Regions from separate parts of the Homo sapiens genome. Here regions 1 and 3 are each linked to region 2. The links come from fine-mapping of genetic effects on gene expression. A gene starts in region 2. Each other region holds a variant in brackets. All regions are shown on one strand. Distances are from middle to middle.

Evidence for each region. PIP is the estimated chance that this variant, and not a neighbour inherited with it, causes the effect. A credible set is the group of variants that fine-mapping cannot tell apart.
Region 1: its variant is the best candidate, but not a certain one, in a credible set for the expression of RNF150 in fibroblasts (GTEx, PIP 0.55).
Region 3: its variant is the best candidate, but not a certain one, in a credible set for the expression of RNF150 in lung (GTEx, PIP 0.85).

Annotation. Positions count from the first base shown.
Region 1 is chr4:140,948,355-140,953,354 of GRCh38, reverse strand. RNF150 (ring finger protein 150) reads left to right here. Exons shown (of 7, transcript NM_020724.2): 3 at 3,983-4,054. Among named protein-coding and RNA genes, the nearest start is that of RNF150, 180 kb to the left of the region's middle. The variant G/A (reference allele first, on the strand shown) is at 2,317.
Region 2 is chr4:141,131,217-141,136,216 of GRCh38, reverse strand. RNF150 (ring finger protein 150) reads left to right here and starts at 2,748. Exons shown (of 7, transcript NM_020724.2): 1 at 2,748-3,892. The coding sequence starts at 3,409. RefSeq lists a silencer at 2,810-2,929.
Region 3 is chr4:141,061,913-141,066,912 of GRCh38, reverse strand. All of the region lies in intron 1 of RNF150 (ring finger protein 150), which reads left to right. Among named protein-coding and RNA genes, the nearest start is that of RNF150, 69 kb to the left of the region's middle. The variant A/GTTA (reference allele first, on the strand shown) is at 2,304.

The DNA of each region.
Region 1 (5,000 bases), 180 kb after region 2:
CATTTATCAATAACATGCAGAATGAGGCTTGACTCAACGAATGTCACAGGAAAGGGAATGGAAGAGAATACCATTATACCATTTTTTAGAATGATTAAGGAAAATACGTCTTCCTACCTTTGTGAATCATTTGATTTCTCAGAGCTTCTAGGAGGAAGGCCTCATAGACTTGATGTTGAAGATGACTTTATTACAGTCATGCACTGCATAACTACGTTTTGGTCAAAAATGGACCACACATATGCAGTAGTCCAATAAGATTATAATATCCTGTTTTTACTGTATCTGTTCTATGTTTAGATACACAGATCCTTACCATTGTGTTACAGCTGCCTACAGTATTCAGTACATGCTGTACAGGTTTCTAGCCTAGGAGCAATAGGCTATACCATAGAGCCTATGTGTATAGTTGGCAGTATCATCTAGAATTGTGTGAGTAATCTTCCATGATTTCACACAGTGACGAAATCGCCTAACAATGGATTTCTCAGAATGTATCCCTGTCATTAAGCCATACGTGACTGTACTTTCTCTTTTACTCTCTTTCCCTCAATCTATTAATTCTGCTAATTTGGGAAGCCCATCTCCTAAATGACTTAATCCTCTGCTGAACTTCTTTAACCTCTCTAGGGCCCAGTCATACAAATGCCAGTAATGGAATTCGTCTTTCTAATTCCCTAGCCATTAACTTTACTGTTAGCCAAAATCCCTGTCACCTTAACGTCAGTTTGCTTTACATTTCCTCAACGGACCTGCCATTTTTAAAAAATAAAGGCAGCCTTCATTATTTTAAAAGGGCGTGGAAAGCGTTTTTTCTCTAGAAGAGACTGAGCGGATGTTTTCAAAAGCCATCTATTTTTATTCAGATGTAGCCAACAGTTAAGTTAAATACACAGCCAAAGTTTAATGCAGTCTTTGAACTTCCCCTACATGCCCACATTTAAGAAGGGCATATTTCATTTGCTAAAAAATTATTTTAAAAGAAATTGAATTTTGAAAACATTATTTCTAGTTCACCTGCTTTTTAAAAATGTTGGCTCCCTGGTCGGGCGCTGTGGCTCATGCCTGTAATCCCAGCACTTTGGGAGGATGAGGTGGGCAGATCATGAGGTCAGGAGCTGAAGACCAGCCTGGCCAACGTAGTGAAACCCATCTCTACTAAAAATACAAAAAAAAATCAGCCAGGCGTGGTGGCGGGCACCTGTAATCCCAGCTACTTGGGAGGCTGAGGCAAGGGGAATCACTTGAACCTGGGAGGCAGAGGTTGCAGTGAGCCGAGATCGCACCACTGCACTCCAGCCTGGGTAGACAGTACGAGACTCCATCTCAAAAGAAAAAAAAAATTATTTCCCTTTGAGTATAATCTATGACCATTGTATGAACATATATTTTTCTACTTAATTACTCTGGTTAGTCTTCAAAAAAAATTTTTTTAAGTGATTGAATTAGGTGCAATATTATATAATGCCAGTTAAACACAATTGCAAAAATATCTGAGTTCTTGACTGAAAAAGAAAAACAGTATTTGTTTGTTTGGGATTCAGATTCTTATTCTAAATACAATATTCTACAGGTCTGTGGCATTTACTCCCAATAACTAGTAGCCCTTTCTCAATACCTTTCAGTCCTTGCCCCGGGGTCCTTCAATGGAGAGCAGCTGTCAGTTGATACTGGCTGGGTTTGCCAAGCCAGGACCACAAGATTGCTTACCTTACAATATGTATCACTTATAGTTTGTCCCTAAATATTCCCGTTAACTGGCTAAATTTCTCAGGTTGTTTTCCTTGCAAAAAAAAAAAAAAACAACAACAACAACAAAAAACCACTCTTGGCTTAAGATTTTATTAACTCATTATTTAGAGTTTTCACTAGATTATAAATTAAACTACAGTTGATAGGAGTGTGTGTGTGTACGTGTGTGTATGCGCACACATGTGTTTTCATTACCATTTTTTTAAACCCAAAGCTATACTTGGCACAGAATAAGAGATCAAAATATGTATGTTGAATGATTGACTGCCTATTATTGAAGGCAGCTTTATTAATATATGCTGGGGATATAGGGAACAATGTGAAGCAAAAACTAAGCATAGGCCTGCCCTCAGGGAGCATATCTGAGGGCAATCTAACAGGAATTGATCATAAAAACAAATTTCAAATGTCAAACGTGACAGTGCAAAGGTACAAAGTGCTATCAGGGTCTAGATGAGAGGGATCTTGTTGGATACATCTAGGAAGGGCTCCTTGAAGAAATGATTTCAGCTGAAGTCAAAGGATGAATAGATAATAACCAGAAGAAGAGGAGAGGAAAGTTCC[G/A]TCATGTTTAGTTCACCTCAGTTCAGTTCTTTTTCTCTCGCTCTCCTGTTTTTCCTGGTATTTATCACTAAAGACTCTTCCTATTTTTGCCTGCTGCCTTAGTTTGCTAGCTACTCATGGACTTCTGCATAAATCTCAAGGGCATAGGTCTCCTTTTAGGAAACAGCCAAAACTTATCCTTCTAATTAAAATGTCAACATTATTTTAGATACGCAGGACAAACTATCAAAGAGAAAAATGAATTAACAAGGAAAACATCTCCTTTTCTGCTAATGACTTTAACTGCTGTGTACTTAGAGAAGTGCCACGTGGTAAATACTTAGTGATTCTGATTGGCTGGATGGTTGGTTGACTGGTTAGCTGGCTAGCCAGACGTTGGATGGATGGCTGACTGGCTGGCCAGGTGTTAGATGGTTGGCTGACTGGCTGATTGGTTGACCGGGTGGCTTGGCAAATAAAGGTGAGGGTGGTAGATGAGCTTTGATTTTAAAGTCAAACTTAATTTTATTCAGATTCTGACTTACCTTTCACTAACTCTATGATATTGGACAACTTACTTAAGCTCTGTAAGCCTCAGTTCATTCTATTAAATAGTGCTTTTCTCAGTTATTATAATATCAAAGGTGATAATGCATATATAGCTTTAGCATGGCACCTAGGATATATTAACTGTTCACTAATATGTGTTCACTATTTTAAAGAAAAGCAAGAAGCTTGAGTGCTTTTTCCAAAAGGAACAAAATTAGTGAAAGCAAATGATTAGTCTGTGTTTAAATGTTAACTCTCTTAATCTTAGTCCTTCTGTTTTACTACAACAGATACACATCTATTGCAGACCAGAAATAGATATACCTAAGAAGAAGATAAAACATGTAGAAAACTCACATGCAATTTTTTTGCTTGACAGATTAAAATTTAATTTACTCACCACCCTATCCTTCTCCCAGTTTTCCTCATCACCCTCTGATTGCATTATTGCAGGGCTCATTATGATGGTAATTTTCTCTACCAAAAATGGGGAGAGAATGATATATTATTTCTTGACATGGATCATGGTGGTTACTTATTTGCTAAACTGAACATTATGTTTTATGTATTTTTCTATATGCACACTCACACTTAAACATGCATAAAGGAGGTAAAATTGCCACATGAGAATGTGATGGAATAGGACAGAACAGACCAAATTTAAACCAACGTTATGCCTATATGAGCAGATTGGAAGGAATATCCAAGCAATGAATCCTGATTGTCAAAAAGAGGAGATGACACTTACTCCAGCTACTCCAGATTGGCTATCTCTGTGTCACAAATTGAGTGGCTAGAGTGGCAAATTACTAAACTCATTTTTTTTTGGGGGGGGGTAGTGTATGCACATATAACCTGCACTGTAGAACTGTAGGGCAGGATCTATGTATGTCACATGCACTTGCTTAACTCTAGGCATGAAGAACTTCTCTCTATGGCAGAAGTCTTTTATAGACCTCAACTGGTAGAGCCCCCTTGCACAAATGCCACTGCCCTGTCTTTTCTAGTCGTCATTGCTAGCATTCATACCACATGTGCATGATTTCAGAGCTAGCTGCCCTGGTGTATTAAATGATATCAGAAATGAAGTCAAGAATTACAGATCTTTATTATTAACAAGCACGTTTTGGCTTTTCAGCGCCGACTGGGGGATGCAGCAAAGAAAGCCATCAGCAAACTCCAGATCAGGACCATCAAGAAGGGTGACAAGGTAATAGCAGCCTCTTTTCTTTTTGGTGAGGAGCTATTCAAAGAAGCTTCTAACTTTTCTTATAGCCAGGGTGGAAGAGAGGAAAGGATGGGAAAGGGAAATATATGCTAACAGTTGTCCTATCAGTATCTGTTATTATACTCTTCTTAATTAAACATGAAGTTTGTTATAAAATGCGTATGCTATGATAATAAAATAGTTGTATAGAAAATATGACAAACTGATAAGTGTATAAAAAATAGATGAAGCCAGAATGAAATTAGTACACAAATGGATTACCTAAAATTTGTACTAGAAATGGGTCTCAAATTTAAGTTGGGGCTTTCTAGCAGCCAGTGCAAAGGAAACAATATTCAGGTAATATTTAATGAATTTATTCCAGTGTCCCATGAGATAAAATCAAAATGGTTGTTCCTGATGTTATGACCTGAGAAAGTTTTTTCATGAATCTTTGCAAGCAAGACAGCTTTATGTGCTGAGCTATGTTCTCCACTTGTCTACAGTATAAATGCAGGAAGTATATTCAACCCCTCTGAAATCCAGTATTCAGAACCCCAAGGTTGATAGGTGGTGTGGCTCATGCCTGTAATCCCAGCACTTTGGGAGGCCAAGGTAGGTAGATCACTTGAGGCCAGGGAGTTCAAGACCAGCCTGGGCAATGTAGAAAGACCCTGTCTCTATAAAATTTTTTTTTAAAATCAAAACACAGAGCCCCGAATTCATTTCAGTAGTCTCCTTCACTGTAGAATGATGTCATAAAGCCAAAAGCAATAGTATGTCTTGAGGAGGGAAAACAAAGCAGTCCTGCCCAGGTTTATGGGCTTCTAAGGGTCTTCCTTATTCCCTAGGCCAAGTTAGAGCATTGGATTACAATACATGGGTTTGGAACTCCTTGGGGCAATGTAAGGGATTTACAACTCCATATATAAGCAGGTATTGTCTCTAA
Region 2 (5,000 bases):
ATATACCATCCAATCTACCAATTTCACTGAATTTTTGCCAAGTGTTTATTTTTCCTTTCTGGTCTAGGAGCCAATCTGGGATATTTATTGTACGTAATTGTCACATCTCTTAAATCTCTTCAATTTGGATCAGTTCTTCTGTTTTTCTCTGTCTCTCATAAGTTTAAGAGTTTTAAAGAATATAAACTTTTCATTTTGAAGGTTGCCTCTCATCCTGGGTTTATCCATTGTTTCCTTATGTCTAGACCATGCCGTGTATTGTTCTTTTCAGGAACATGACAGAAATGACACTGTAATTCCAGTGCATTTCATAAGGAGGTACATGATAGGACTCATTCTACAAATGGTGATGTTCACCATGATCACCTGCTCAACTTGGTGTCTTCCAGGTTCCTCTTCAATAAATTCACCATTTATTGAATTAATAAGTATTTTTCAGAAGATACTTCAAGACTAGGCTAATATCCTGCTTCACATCAAACACCTACTCATCAGCCTTAGTATCCATTGATGACTCCTGCCTAAATCAAACAACACTCTTGTCAAATGGTGACTTTCTATATCCATTAATCCTTATCAGTAGGTATTTCTACCATAAGGAAGAGCTGTTCCTCCCTATTTATTTACTCCATCATTTTTCTGTATTAACATTAGCACGGATTCATGCCTTATTAGATAGGTTGTAATCAGTTACTAGGATCATTTATTTTATGTTCAGACTGTCCCAGATTTGGCCAGTGGGAGCCCTTTCCAGCTGGCTCTTCTGTCTTTTTGACATACTCCCATCATGCTTGGAGCATTTCCTTTCAAGAGGTTATGGGCTCACTCTGTACTTTCCCAGTGTCAGCCCTATAATCAGCCAGCTTGCTTTTCGTGGAGGATGCTATTTAGAAACGAAGATCTTCTGGCCACTGGATGTGCCTTTTGCTTTTGGCCTCTGAATGGAGAGAGCTATGGTATATATGTGTGCACACACATAAATATATATACATATAGTTTTTGAAAAATTATTTCATACTCATTGTTAATCCACCCTAAAGCCTCAAGGTTATTTACAGCTCTCTTTCTTTCCATATTTGTAAATTCCTTCTCCAACAGTAAGAAACCTCGCTCCTATTTTACTCAGTGTTTTACTTATTAGCCCAATGGCCCTGTAATTAAGCAATCTTCCAGCCATGCTATTTCCTTGACCCTGTCATCTCTTTAGCACCTAACTTTTCCAAAGGAAAGAAGGGGTAAGGGATAGTCACACATTCTTAATAACATAGCTTCTCCAAGTCTTCCAGCTGGAGAAAAAAAATGCTAAGCGATAAAGAAGACTGGGGAAACACTGTGGGTTGCTAAAGGCAACTGCTCAGAACCTAGCCGGGGGTTTCTAGCAGTGGACTCCTCCCTCAGATCTCTGGTGGTTCAGGAACCAGCAGCCAGGTGTCTCCACTTTTGCCTCCTTGGCAGTAAGCGCTATAAAAAGCACTGTCCCAATTGCCTAGAAGCCTATTTTCTAAAATGAATAAGCTAGGAACACATACAAATTCAGCACATCAAATGCCATAGAGACAAATTCTTCTAAGTAGTTCTTCTTGTGCCTGCTTCTAATTTGGGTACAGCTGAGGCTCTTTGCCCTCCCTTAACAGCCATCAGCTGTTTGTACTGCTGCCGGAAAAAGAGAAGTTGTACTGGTGGACGTTCATTAACGAAGAGCTGTAAACATGCTAAAGTCCTGGGGAAAAGGCAGCCTTTCATTTTTTAAATTTAAATCATGAATGGGTCCTGGGTTCTCTGAAAGAGCATCAGGTGGGAAACACAATGTAAATGATAGAGAACCATCAAACAAATATTTTTAGAGACTATATGGCAGGCATCTCAAGCCAAGGGAAAGGATATCCACCACCAAAACGTCTAATTGGTAAGGCACTCTGCTGTACTACAGTTTTAAGAACACTACACTAGGGGGACTGTACTGTCTGCTGACTACTGTAATCTCTATGCACAGTTGGAGAGCGCACTATAAACAATAACCCAAACAAACCTCCCTTGCCTGTTGGTGCTGCGAGTCCCCTGTTCCCAGCCATGACAATCAGAATAAACACAGTCCAGAAATGTCTCACCCGGTTTCTCTTCTTACAGAGTGACAAAACACCTATTCTATAAGAAAACGAATGTTAGATGTTTGCTTCCAGGTGGGCAGTAGGAAGCCCATTGTTATACCCATCTTAACAGAATGGTTGTTAGACCAGCAGCATCAGCACCACCTGGGAACTTGTTAGAAATGCATATTTTTGGGGCCCTACCACAGATCTACTGAACCAGAAACTTTGTGGCAGGACCCATCGGTCTGAGTTTTAAAACTAAAGATTTGATAGCCACTGCCCTAGGTATTCCAGAGGTAGCTTTGGAAGGACCTCAATACCAAACCACCTTACACTTTGGCCTTAGGACAGGTAATCAGGGAGCTCACGGCAGTACTTCCAGCAAACGGGAGGGTCGTTTACGAGAGGCACATACATTTGCTAAATGTAACGCTCAGGAAGTTATTCCCGTACTCAAAGGTCGAGGGGTCGCTTCCTCTTTACCTCCACCTAGATTAAGTCGCCGATTGAGGTTGAATTTGAGACCCGACAGGGGTCGCTGCTGCCCATAAAGAGAGACCAAGGGAACATGGCAAGAGAATCCCAGGGGCTTTGACATCACACTAAGCTCCTCCTTGCACGCACACATTATACACACACACACACACACACACAAACATACAGACACACACACACGGACCGCTTACTCCGCTCTGCCTGCTCGCTCCCACTGTCCCCAAGCCCGCCCCGCCCGCGGCAAGTGCGTGCCCAGGCGCAGCCACCGGCGAGATCAGGAGCGCAGCGCCCGCAGCCTGAGGGAACCGGCGCAGGGCAGCAGCGGCTGCAGCTGGATTCGCGCGCCCCAGCGCTCAGTGGCGGCGGCCGGGACACCCTGGGCAGCACCCCGCACCGCAGCACCCCAGACTACGAGCAATCGTGCCCGTCCCCGCCGGGGCTGGAGGGCGCAGGGCCGCCACCCTGCAAGTTCGTGGGCCCCCGGCCACCCTTATGAGAGAAGGCGAAGCCGGGCGAAGGAGCAGGACGCTCGGCAGCAGGACTCCTCCGCAAGCCCCGCGGGCCCTCTGTTCCCGCGCCCCCCGGGCGCCCAAGAAGCAAAATGCAACCACCGCGCTACAGCTGAGAGGGGAAGGGGCCAGCGCCATCCGCTCGCCCGGAATCCGGTCCCCGCGGCGGCTGCGCGTCCCGGCCGCGGCCCCTCCGGCCCGGGAGTGAGCAGCAGCAGGAGGAGAGGCAGCGGCCCGGGGTTGGCCGGGGCTGGGGAGGAGGGACGGGACGGAGGGAGGGCGCGGGGGCGGGGAGGGGGCCCCGGCGGATAAAGATGGCAATGTCTCTCATCCAAGCGTGCTGCAGTCTGGCTCTCTCAACATGGCTGCTTTCCTTTTGTTTCGTGCATCTGCTCTGCCTGGACTTTACCGTGGCCGAGAAGGAGGAATGGTACACCGCCTTCGTGAACATCACCTACGCCGAGCCCGCGCCGGACCCCGGGGCCGGGGCGGCGGGCGGCGGCGGCGCGGAGCTGCACACGGAGAAGACGGAGTGCGGGCGCTACGGAGAGCACTCGCCCAAGCAGGACGCCCGCGGGGAGGTGGTCATGGCCAGCTCGGCCCACGACCGCCTGGCCTGCGACCCCAACACCAAGTTCGCCGCCCCGACCCGCGGCAAGAACTGGATAGCCCTCATCCCCAAGGGCAACTGCACGTACAGGGATAAGATCCGGAACGCGTTCCTGCAGAACGCCTCAGCCGTGGTCATCTTCAACGTGGGCTCCAACACCAACGAGACCATCACCATGCCCCACGCGGGTGAGTGGCCCAGCGGGCGCGGGGGAGGGGAGCCGGCGGGGACGGAGGTGCCTAGAGGGATCCAGCGCCTGCCTCCAGGCTCCTTCTGGGAAGTCCGTGCGGCGCGGAAGACGTGTCTGGGTTCCCTGGACCGATTAAGTTTTGCTCCGCGTCACTTGGGGGGTTTACAAAGAGGAGAAGATTAACTGTATTGGGTAGGGGAGAGGCTGCCGGAGAGCTTGGCATAGCGCCGCTTGGACAGGGGTTCAACGTGGCGGGCTAACTTTTCCGAGGGGGACCTGGAAGGTGGGGTTTGGAGGGTAGGGCTCAGATACTGTTCTTGGTTAGTGACCGGCCCAGCACCTGTTTGGAACCAGTAGATCTGATACCACAGCACTGCCCTTGGGTCTGTGCATCAGGTATACCCTGATGCAGGCGCTATATCAGGAGAGGGGTAGGGTTACCTGCTGGCAGCTCACCACCGCGAACTTGCACTTGGGAGAGTTTCCCCTTTTGGGTTTACGCACTTCATTAATCATATTAAAAGTACTATGCTCTGCCAGGCTGTCATCCAGAGAAACTGACAGGTGGCCACGATGGTAAATAATAACAATCCTCAACAAGCCAAGAAGAGTGTGATGGCCCTAAAGTTATAACTACTTTTCTAATTATTGCATTATCCTTTGCCTGATTGGGAGGTTAAATATGCTGAAGGTTTTCTTTCTGGCTAGAATGAAGGGATTTCAGACTAGAGAGAATAAGCTTTTGTTAATGATCGCAGGTACCAGGACTAGAAATGCATTACTGTCCCAAAACTCAATACCGCATATGCCTGACATAAGCAATGTTTCCCTGGTGGTAGGAACACCCTCCCCCCAAAAAAGCCATCCCCAGGCTTGTTAACATAAGTCCATAAGCCACTAGTTTTAGCAAGCTAGCCTCCTTATGTCAGAGCTTGCTGCTTGTATTTGTGTGCCTGAGAAGTGGGCCCTCCTTCCCCAAAGGGGTTTCTGGGCCGAGACTGTGGCATCCAGTGCCCGGAAGGAGGGGAGAAAATGACAGATGCATTTTCTGAGTGGAGTCTCCTAATCAAAAGCATTATTTTCTTTAAAAACCAAATTTGAATAAA
Region 3 (5,000 bases), 69 kb after region 2:
ACCATCTAGGTTTGTATAAGTACATTTTATGATGTTTGCACAACAACAAAGTCAACTAATGACACATTTCTCAAAATATAGCCCTGTTAAGTGACGCATGACTGTAATTAATCTGAAGTTATTTAAAAACATACATGGTATATTTTCAGTACATATTACTAATAATTCAGACTTTATATTAATTTACGTCAGTAGTCAACCAAACAGGCTACATTATTTGTTTTGTGCTTTTGTGTATCTTTAGTGTTTGGGGAAAATATGCTTTGCAAAAAAATTTGTAGAAATATCGTCAGCTTATTTCATAGCAGAATGCTTACTAAGGTACTATAGCTCTTTGCTTAGAAAATTGTAGAACATGTATATTATTGATATACATAACTCATTTAATATCAAGACAGATTTGTATTTGTGTTTAAAAGTTATTAGAAGTGTAAACTCACTGAAAAATTATATAAGGTGGCATCATCATTTTTTAAGATTAGGCTTCAGTGTCTAATTTCTGTTTGCTTATTTGTTCACAGTACAATGATCTCTTTTGACACCATCCCTGTTGAAACATTGCTACCCTTGCAAAAAATGAGCTAATCTTACAGATGATGGAGATATATGCTTCTCATATTTAAAGTATAATTGATAGTGTGAAAATTACTGAGGAATGGTTTTTTTTTTTTCGCACATATACTGAACAAATGATAGCTTTTAACAATTGCACCCTGTTCTAATGTTCTTGCATCCAGAGGGGAAGGGTCATAAGGAAAAAGAATTTAACAGTGGGAGGAGGAAGTTTTTGCTGATTCATCCCTCTCCAAATGGAACACACTGGGATCAGATGAGTCAAATAGTGTTGAGGGCGAAGGGTTAGAAGACAAGTAGAATGAAAGGTCCGGGGATGTGAACCACCCATGCACAGAGAATGCCTGCAGTGTGTTACCTCAACAGGAGCAGCTTCAGGAAAGAAGCCTTTTCTGATTTTACTGCATAAAGAGAGAGGATTCCAGCTGATTTCAACATCAAAATAGAGATAGATATGCTGATTCCACATCATCTCTATTTGGGGGATCATATGAACCTTCCATGAGTGTGTGGGTAGACAGAGGTCATCCAAGCGGAGGGAGTCGGCATTTAGTAGACCGAGAAAGGTGAATGTTAATATCATACCCCACTGGTCTTGAGGACATCAAGGTCAGTTTTTCCTCATGACCAGAAATATTTATTATTATTAAGGACTGGACTCAGTAACTTAAAAATTACGATGAATTTCAATGAATTTCTTCCTAGCACATATACAGCTCATCTTACTACCTTCTAAAATTCGCCTTTCTTAGGTTTACAGAGACTACGCAATGTAAAAAAAAAATTACAAATAAATAAAATTTGCCTTTCATTAGGAGCTACCTCTTAAGTTAACTAAGCAGTTACCCCTGGTATAGAACACTTGAAATATATTACAAATAGGAGGATTTTTTTCCCTATATTTTGTAAACTCTTTCTAATAGTTTCATATAAATTTTTTAGTAGAGTCAGAAACATTCAGAAATCAATAATCTCAGAAAATTCCTTCATATTGTACATTTCTCTCTGTCACTTTTCTTCCCTATCCCTGCCTCTCACGCACAGATAGCATGTTTGTGGCCAAATCTTAGATAGTAACCCAGGACGTAAGGGTTAATTGCTGATTGTAGACAAGCAAGCTGATCTGGAGACATCAAGCCCTATGGCATGCTTAGAACTTATTTAAGAATTGTCAGGGCCAGGTGTGGTGGCTCATGTCTGTAATCCCAGCACTTTGGGAGGCCGAGGTGGGCAGATCACCTGAGGTCAGGAGATCAAGATCAGCCTGACCAACATGGAGAAACCCCATCTCTACTAAAAATACAAAATTAGCCAGGCGTAGTAGCACATGCCTGTGATCCCAGCTACTTGGGAGGCTGAGGCAGGAGAATCGCTTGAACCTAGGAGGCAGAGGTTGCAGTGAGCGGAGATCGTGCCATTGCACTCCAGCCTGGGTAACAAGAGTGAAACTCCGTCTCAAAAACAAACAAACAAACAAAAATTGTCAGGCTGTTCAGTGTGTAGCTTATAAAGCTACATCGTAGTGTCAAACCCTCTGCCTTGCCTTTAATTCAACAAATAGCGCTTGAAGGGGTACTACCTCTCCCTTCAGTGATACCTACTCCCCTCCCTTTTCTGCCCATCACCAAGTTACCATTTTGTTTTTGTCTTTTATTTTGCTGTGGTTTTTAATATGAGTACAGTGTAAACATAATTATCTTTATATTTTTTAATTTTTTGTTGTTGTTGTT[A/GTTA]GAGATGGTGCTGTGCTGTCCAGGCTGGAGTGCAGTGGCTGTTTACAGGTGTGATCATAGAGCATTACAACCTCAAACTTCTAAGCTCAAGTGATCCTCCTGCCTCAGCTTCCCAAGTAGCTGGAACTACAGGAATGCACAACTATGCCTGGTGATTAGCTTTATTGTAATGGAGAAAAGCCAAGCGGTGTTCAAGGCATTCTAGACAAAACCATTGACCTCATAATATTTACAAACTATAGGCCAAAGCGGAAACATACACAGACAATAATGGTTAAGATTTTCCAAGCGCCTGTCATATACCAGGCAGAGTAGTGTACGTTTTCTTACGGAGTCCACGACGTTCAGATCTCACCTTTGCCATTTACTAGCTTTGTGGCCTTGGTTTTGTCAGATGTAAAATGGGAAAATTAGTAGCACTTAATTCATAAGGTTGTTGCAAGCACTGTATTAGTTAAGCAAATGTTTAATATATGTTTTATAATTATTAAGTAGAACTTTTAAAGTAAAAAGGAAAAATAAAGAAATGTTGAAAGGCTTTGGTTTAACTAGGAGGCCGTTTTTTAACTTTCATTAAATCTGTTTATGAAGCCATCAGTCCTTTTTTTTTTTTTTTTTGTAGAACTTTTTGTCGTTGATTCATTACAAAATGGTTCTTATAGTTTAATAAGCAGGAGAGGCTAAGGCCAAAACCTTTGGCTAGAATAAAGGGTCTGACTACTGGTTATATAACTTTTGTAATTATAAACCCTACAACTGTCACCAACACACACATAACCTGCATACAAATGCACAGACACACACACATACGGGCACACACATGAAACTGTGAGAATCTGTAAAATCTGCAAAGGATTTTTGTATCCCGAGAGTCTAGCATAATAATTTGTGCGTAGTATGTTCTAAATAATTAGTTGGTTCCTACTGATAGACCCAGTTTTGTCTGGTCCTTCTTGAAAAGCTATAATAAAACAACGTCCACCCCCATCCAGCCCTTTCCCAGGTGGCTACTGGAAATGTAAGGTGGCACAATGTTTCAGAAAAACAATTTGCTTATTTTTATCAAGAATCTTTTTTAAAGGTCCATATAATTTGTCCTACTAATTTAACTTCTGAGACTGTATCATAAGGAAATAGTAGCTTTACCATAAAGATATTTATGTCTGTATCTGCTTATTCAAAAAGAAAAATTTTGGCATAACCTAAATGGCTGTAAGAACAGAAAGGAAGATAATTAAGTAAACCTTGGATGCTTCACTAAATTTGGAAATCCATGTCCTTTTGGAAGGGAATTCCTTCAACTTTGAAATTTTGTTTATTTATATCATTGAGATAACATCTGCTTAATTCAGATCCTTCTGTGAGAAGGTAAGATATGCTATAAATAAAAAAGTTGCTAAACGCATTTCATATTTATAGTATAAGTTCATAAATTGTTAAAATTGTCTTTAAAAAGATTCTTTAAACAACAAATATTATGTCATCTGAAAAAGGAATACAAAATCGTCTACAAAGTAGAATCTCATCTATCTAAACAATGCATAGGAACAAGATCAACTGGCTAGATGTCATGTTGTTCAAAGATGCTGCTCAGCCATAAAAAAGAATAAAATCATGTCCTTTGCATCAACATGGATGCCATCATCCTAAGCAAATTTACACAGGAACAGAAAACCGAATACCACACATTCTCACTTATAAGTGGGAGCTAAGCACTGGGTGCACATGACCATGAGGATGGGAACAGTGGACACTGGGGCCTACTAGAGGGCGGAGAAAGGGAGGGGGACAAGGGCTGGAGGACTGCCTGTTGGGTACGGTGCTCATTGCCTGGGTGACAGGATCATTCATACCCCAAATCTCAGCATAATACAATATACCTATGTGACAAACCTGCACATGTATTACCAGAATCTAAAATGCACGTTGAAATTATAAAATTAAGAATATAAGATAATGTGATAAACAACAATAAGAAAAGAACAAATCCCTGCCTAGGAATCTTATGCAGAAGCTCTTGATAAGGATATTTTCATATTCTGCAAGCTTAAAGCGTTCAGAGAACACTATTGTGTATTAAACTATCTTGTATATGTAAAGGAAAAAAAAACAAAGGTGCTGCCTCTAAGTGGTAAGATTATGAGTGATATTTTTTCCTTCTAGATGCTTTATATGCATGTAGACCTTTCAGACTTGCTACTGTATGTGCGTGTGTGTGTGTAGACATACATATATATACACATACATATATATACATATACATACCTATATATGAGAGATATATATAAGATGCATGTTTATCTTTATATCATGTATAATACAGACATGTATAATACAGACATAAAACAAAGAGAATTTTACGCAAAGACTCAGAAGGAAGAGTAATAATTTCATGCATTGAAGAAACAGATTTGAATATAGTGTTTCTTCCACATCTTATGTTACCTGAGCATAATGGATATAATTTCCTTGTTTTAGTTTTAATAAGGTTATTTCTCTGCTGTAGTATGAAAGTGTGTCTCCTAAGTCTTCAAACTGTATGAAATCAAAAGATAACTCAGTTACAAGTTGTTTGGGAAAAGTATTTAGTGTACTTAAAACATTTCTACTTTAATTTTTGTGTCTCATAATTATCAGATTTATTCTCTTTCCTGAAATATTTTAATGGATTTTAAAATCGATGTACTTTTGGGAGGC